2 linked regions of the Homo sapiens genome follow. The protein of the gene in region 1 purifies or fractionates together with the protein of each later gene. This does not show direct contact. Each region holds a gene or a part of one and is shown in the gene's direction. Other genes may lie near its edges.

Region 1 (3,657 bases):
ATATATAAATAGATTATATATTTTATATTATATATTATATATTTTTATATATAATATATAAATAGATTATATATTTTTATATTATATATTATATATAGATTATATATTTTTATATTATATATTATATTTTTATATAATATATAATATATTATATATAAATATATATAATATATAATATATTATATATTATATATATATTATATATATTATATATTTTATATTTTATATAATATATAATATATATATAATATATATTATATATTATATATTTTACATAATATATAATATATTTTATATAATATATAATATATTTTTATATAATATATAATATATTGTATATTTTTATATATATAAAAATATAAAGGTTTTATATATATATAAAGGTCATATATATATGAGGTTACTGGGAGTCCTTCTAAGGCTCTCCATATATTTTTATATATATAATTATACATTTTTATATATATACTATATTATATTATTATATATTATATAATATATTATATGTTATATATTATATATTTTTATATAATATATAATATATAATATATATTTTATATTATATATAATATATAATATATATTTTATATAATATATAATATATAATATATATTTTATATTATATATAATATATAATATATATTTTATATTATATATGATATATTATGTCACATATAATATATGATATATGTCACATATATGATATATTATATGTGACATATAATATATCATATATAATATATTATATATTATATATCACATATAATATATTATATATGATATATTATATGTTATATATTTTTATATTACAAATATTTTATATATAAATATATTATATATTTTTGTATTATATATATTTTTATATAAATATATTTTTTATCTTATATATATTTACATATATAAATATATATAAATACATATATATATATATATATGCATGAGTGAAATACTGAAAAGAAATTCAAGATCACTCCAATTCAGAAACAGGTGCTTCCTCATGTATGTAAAATATATATAATATAAAAATATATATTTTATATATAATATATATTATGTAAATATATATATGTATTTTTTTGAGACAGAGTCTACTCTGTTGCCCAGGCTAGAGGAGAGTATCATGATCTCAGCTCACTGAAACCTCTGCCTCCCAGGTTCAATCCATTCTCCTGCCTCATCCTCCCGAGTAGCTGGGATTACAGGCACGTGGCACCACACCCAGCTACGTTTTGTACTTTTAGTAGAGATGGGGTTTCACTATGTTGGCCAGACTGGTCTTGGACTCCTGACCTCAAGTGATCAACCCGCCTTGGCCTCCCAAAGTGCTGGGATTACAGGCGTGAGCCACCGCACCTGGCCTCAATTATACATATTTAATAATAATTTGGGGGCCACATTTTCTCAGATATTATGAAAAGTTTTTGAAGATTGAAAAATACATTCATTTATTTGGCAAATATTTTGTGTATCTGCTATGTACTAAGCACTCTCCACAGCACTTGATATTTTACAGCAACAAAATACTGCATAAACTTCATTATGTGTATAAGCCTTATTTAATCCATATATATATGTATATATATATATATATATATATATATATATATATATACAGTGATTATGCTTTCACTATGTAAATGCCATAATGTACAAGAATATAACTCACAGCCCCTGCTTTCAGGTGGCTTACAATATTCCTTAAACAAAATGCTAAACTTCAGAGGAAACAGAAAATTCTAAAAATAGGTTATTTATAGTGGTATGCATCTTTTCCCCTACATCCCGTGTCAAAATTATTTTGTTTTTTGCTGTTTGTTGACTACCTGAACACACCACAATATTCATTATTTAGAATTGACATTGCATTCTTTATATCCATCTGTACTTTTCTAGAACCAGCCCGCCTCCTCTTTCAATGTACTGTTTACTAATTATCAAAATCTTAGTGTTCTATTTTTCTGAATGTTGGATTAAAATATTGCCCACCCTTTAAAACTCAGAGAATGTAAATAACTGTCAACTTAGTTTCTCTTCCCTATTCATCAAAATTCATCATGTGGAAAGCTGCTTTATCTCCCCTGTGGACCAAGAGGGAAGAAAGAAAAGAAAAACAAATAAGCGGTCTCATTGCTGGGTAAACTCAAGTCAAATAAAGGAGCTTTATTTCTCCAGCAACTTCATTACTCAAGACAAACCAGGAGCTTCCTTTTTGAACATGGCACTATTCCAGTTTTTGTGAATGTATATACATATAAAAAATCCATGTAACACAATATTTTATCTCCTGTAGTTTATAACCAAAAAGAAACTACAAAATTCATCATATGCAAAATTAACCTGATAATCAAGTCCACAGGTATATTTGGGGGTTTCCATGATCTCTCTTTAATTGGGGTAATAGAACCTCCAATTAATTCAAGTCAGTTAGACACAACGGTATGTGAAAATATTTCTGATTATGGATTATAAAACATAGATACATGAACATGAAATGAATCATCTATGGTTTGGGCAAATGAGGACACATTGGGCAGGAAACATCCTATAAAGACTAAGAATTAGTTTTGGATTACTTCCAAGAATTGAAAAGGAGAAAGAGATACTGAAAGAAATGGTGCCAAGAATATGGTGGGATATAGTTGGAGGAATGAAAATATATTTTATATTGTTTCTGTTACCAAAGAAATTTTGTTTCCATTTTATATGTGAACATTTCCTATAAAGAGCTATAATTCGAAGACTTCTTTCGAGATAGCAAGGTGTAATGAAGACACTGAACAAACTTCCAATATAAATTATTTTTCTCTTTGATTAGGTTCACTACCTTATGGTTCTGTCTGCCAACTGGGCCTATGTGAAAGACGCCTGCCGGATGCAGAAGTATGAAGACATCAAGTCGAAGGAAGAGCAAGAGCTTCATGACATCCACTCTACTCGCTCCAAAGAGCGGCTCAATGCATACACATAAATGCATCTTCCTGTTCTTTCTACCATTTGAATGCATTGGTGTTTAACTAAGGGCCATCCAACCATCCAACCTTTAAAAAACAAAACGAAAGTGCTTCTCATCAATGATATGTAAGGTGACTTATGAATCACCTGAGTACAATTCTTTGTTGTTTAGCACTTAAATTTCCCAATTTATTAAATTGATGTAAATCAGATCTTTTCTACAAGCTCCTATCCAGCCTTTTTTTTGAAATTTCTCAAACTCATTTACTAGTTCTGTAAAATCAAAGATACTAACATTGTCAAATGCAAAGATTTGTTTGATTTTTAACCACTTCCCATGTGTTATACATAACACCTTTTGCATTATTTCTTATGTTTTGAAAAGAAAATAGCTTTTTATACTTTTTAGTTTTGATTTCGGTAACTAGTTTAACTACAGGTAACCTTCAAAGGGACCATTGTACATTATGAACAATAGATAGAGATTACATCTTGATGACTCTTGAAATATGGAAATTTTGTCTGAAGATCAGTGGCCATATTACTGTAGGCCCTGGTTCATGTTTTCATCAATCTAAGGTGCAATTTCTAAATTTGTAAGAGTAGGTTTAAAAAAAAAAGTGCTTCTTATCTTTGTTAACATTGTACTTTTCCTTGATGTTCTTAAAAGGTATTTCCCTCAGATTACTCATGTTTATGTTGTGA
Region 2 (3,657 bases), on another chromosome or scaffold:
GCACAGAGTTCCCTGCCCTGGATATCAAGCTGGGCACAGCCAGAGACTTGTCTTCGGTAGGGACAGTCAAGTCAGGCAAAACCGTGAACTTGGCTACAGCAGGCACAATCAAGCCGGGCACAGCCATGAATCTGACTACAGTTGGGACAACCAAGCCAGGGATGGTCATGGATTTGATAGCCTCAGAACCAGACAAGCTGGGCAAAGCCATGGCTACAAGAAGCACAGCCAAACCAGATATGACCACAGAGGGTATAGCCATGGATTCAGCAACATCAGACCCAGTCAAGCCGGACACAATCACAGCTACAGTGGGCACCAGTAGGTTGGAAACAGCCATGGCTTTGGCCAGAGTGAACAGAGCCAAGCTGGGCACGGCTAAGAATTCTCTTGCTTTGGACACAAGCAGGATGGGCACAGCTGTGGGTTCAGTTGTGCCAGTAACCCCAGACCCAGCCACTGGGAAGACCACACTGGGCAGTGTTAATAACCTAACCATATCAGACGTTGCTACATGCCTGCTAATGCCAAGCAGATCCACAGACCTAGCCCTGGACAACACTAATGCTGCCATGGACAGAGCCACAGAGCCTGCCTCACTGGACCTGGCCACAGAATACAAAGGTAAATGCAGAAACTTGGTTGGGGATGGACTAGGCTGCCGGGAGGGGGAGGTGTGTGAGCTTGGAGATGGATCATGCTTGCATGGGTTGAGAAACGGAGGAAGGACTCTAAGGTCAGGGTTGAATGGGTTGGGAGAAAAGGAAATGGGGGTTGTAGGGCCAGACATAGGGACTGTACCCTGAGCTGGGTTCTAACCTGCCAGTCTGAGGTCAGGCTGAGGGAAACTATCAGAAAGAAGGTTTTGGCCAGGTGTGGTGGCTCATACCTGTAATCCCAGCACTCTGGGAGGCTGAGATGGGAGGATTGCTTGAGTGCAGGAGTTCAAGACCAGCCTGAGAAAAATGGTGAGACTGTCTCTACAAAAAATAAAAAATAAGGGGCTGGGCACGGTGGCTCACGCCTGTAATCCCAGCACTTTGGGATCTGCCCAAGGCGGGCAGATCACAAGGTCAGGAGATCGAGACCATCCTGGCTAACACGGTGAAACCCCGTCTCTACTAAAAGTACAAAAAAAAAAAAAAAAAAAATTAGCCGGACGTGGTGGCGGGTGCCTGTAGTTCCAGCTACTTGGGAGGCTGAGGCAGGAGAATGGCGTGAACCCGGGAGGTGGAGCTTGCAATGAGCCGAGATCATGCCACTGCACTCCAGCCTGGGCGACAGAGCGAGACTCCGTCTCAAAAAAATAAAAAAATAAAAAATAAGGGTTGGGCACAGTGGCGCACACCTGTAATCCCAACATTTTGGGAGGCCAAGGCGGGTGGATCACTTGCGGTCAGGAGTTCAAGACTAGCCTGGCCAACATGGTGATACCCCGTCTCTACTAAAAATACAAAAGTTAGCCAGGTGTGGTGGCACATGCCTGTAGTCCCAGCTACTTGGGAGGCTGAGGCACGAGAAGCACTTGAACCTGGGAGGCAGAGGCTGCAGTGAGCCAAGATCGTGCCACTGCACTCCAGCCTGGTGACAGAGTAAGACTCTGTCTCAAAAAATAAAATAAGATAAAATAAAATAAAAAATTAGCAGGGCATGGTGGCATGCATCTGTGGTCCCAGCTACTGGGGAGGCTGAGGTGGGAGAATTGCTTGAGCCCAGGAGGTCGAGGCTGCAGTGAACCATGATTGTGCGACAGAGCAAGACCCTGTCTCAAAAAAAAAAAAAAAGAAAAGAAAAAGAAAGGTTAACAGGGGTAACTTGTGGAGGAGCAATTATGGTGAGTCCTCCTTTCAGCATCTCCCGGGATTGTTTGTTTCCTGAAGACCTGGAATAATCAGGTGATCAATAGGTGTGTCCACCTTTAAAAGCAGTGGCTCACACCTGTAATCCCAGCACTCTGGGAGGCTAAGGCGGGTGGATCACGAGGTGAGTTGTTCAAGACTAGCCTGGCCAGGCCAGGCGTGGTGGCTCACACCTATAATCCCAGAACTTTGGGAGGCCGAGACAGGTGGATCACGAGGTCAGGAGATCAAGACCATCCTGGCTAACAAGGTGAAACCCCGTCTCTACTAAAAATACAAACATTAGCCGGGTGTGGTGGTGGGTGCCTGTAGTCCCAGCTACTTGGGAGGCTGAGGCAGGAGAATGGCGTGAACCCAGGAGGCAGAGCTTGCAGTGAGCCGAGATTGCGCCACTGCAATCCAGCCTGGGTGACAGAGTGAGACTCCGTCTCAAAAAAAAAAAAAAAGAAAAAAAACTAGCCTGGCCAACATGATGAAACCCCGTCTCTACTAAAAAATACAAAAAATTAGCCAGGTGTGTAGGCTGAGACAGAGAATTGCTTGAACCCGGGAGGCGGAGGTTGCAGTGAGCTGAGATTGCGTCACTGCACTCCAGCCTGAGCGACAGAGCGAGACTCTGTCTCAAAAAGAAAAAAAAAAAAAAAAAAAAAAAAAAAAGCAAGCCTCCTACCTCCTACGTGAAAATACTGACTAGCGCTTTAGGAAGTTGTGATTTGTCTAATAGGTAGTCTCTGCAGCCTCCTCTGGATGTGAGATAATGACCTCACTCGAGACTTTCCAAATCCATTTACGCTCAGCCTTTTAGGAAGGTATCTGTTGCTTAAAAGTTGTCTTACCTGAATGTCTCTTTCTTGGTCCCCCACCCCCAGCCCTTTAATCCTGAAAGGTAAGTTGGAGCCTTGTATATATGGAAGTCCTACACAGAACTCTAAAATAGGGCAACACAAGGGCTGGACATTCATTTGGTCTTAGAAAGCCTGTGACATGCCTAAAGTCACACCAAAGCTGGCTGGTGGCAGTAAGCTGATTGGAATCCAGATTGTTAAAATCTCTACTTTGGGCAGCCTCATTCCCAACATTTCAAGGGCTCAGAGTTTTTGGGTCTGGAAAGGTGCCTAGAAGGCATCCAGTCTAATGCCTTAATTGAGTCGTTAGATTGTCAGACCCCTTTCCCTCCACCCCACACACTCAGTCTGGGCACCTCACCTAAATTCTGGTCTTCACTTCTCCCTACGAGATCTCAGCTCTCCCTCCATCTGCAGCCCAGCCCTGTCTCCTGAAGTGCAGATGTGGGCAGCCAGCAGCCTGCTAGGCTTATCTACCCGGATGTCTCCCGGGCATGTCCAGAGGTAGCCCTTTTCTTCTTGAACTGACTCCTGCCTCCCTGATCTCACTCTCTCAGCTGTAGGCATTGCCTACCTTTTATTAGGTGCCTAGAAACCCGGGTATCCTCTTCTTCCTCATCTCTCTCTTGCCATCTCATCCAGTCTACTTCCCACCTTGTTGGTTTACCTCCTCAGTACTCAACTATCTGGCTGGCTGTCCCCTCCTCTCCATCCTTCTGCCCCTGTGAGGCCACCTCCCACCCACCAGCTTGTTCCCTGTCCACACACAACTGCTGCAACGACTCCCACATTGAATGGCAGCACTTTCGGCTTAATATTCGTCAGTGACTCACCATTACCTTCCATTAAAATCCAGCTTCCAAGGCTGCGTGCGGACTTCTCCAGCCTCTTATTTAGCTCTACACACCTGTCTGGAATTTTCTCTGCTTCAGCGACACCAAGGACTCTGGGCT

What was found. Proteins that work in one complex are often made in the same cells at the same time.
Region 2: the proteins of GPM6A (region 1) and SEPTIN3 purify together in Homo sapiens (affinity purification with mass spectrometry; one large-scale study listed by BioGRID and IntAct). This does not show direct contact.

The regions. Positions count from the first base shown.
Region 1 is NC_000004.12:175,634,216-175,637,872, reverse strand, and holds part of GPM6A (neuronal membrane glycoprotein M6-a), read left to right. Parts: intron 1-2,815; coding exon 2,816-2,968; 3' UTR 2,969-3,657. UniProt on the Homo sapiens protein: Involved in neuronal differentiation, including differentiation and migration of neuronal stem cells. Plays a role in neuronal plasticity and is involved in neurite and filopodia outgrowth, filopodia motility and probably synapse formation.
Region 2 is NC_000022.11:41,972,373-41,976,029, forward strand, and holds part of SEPTIN3 (neuronal-specific septin-3), read left to right. Parts: coding exon 1-624; intron 625-3,657. UniProt on the Homo sapiens protein: Filament-forming cytoskeletal GTPase. May play a role in cytokinesis.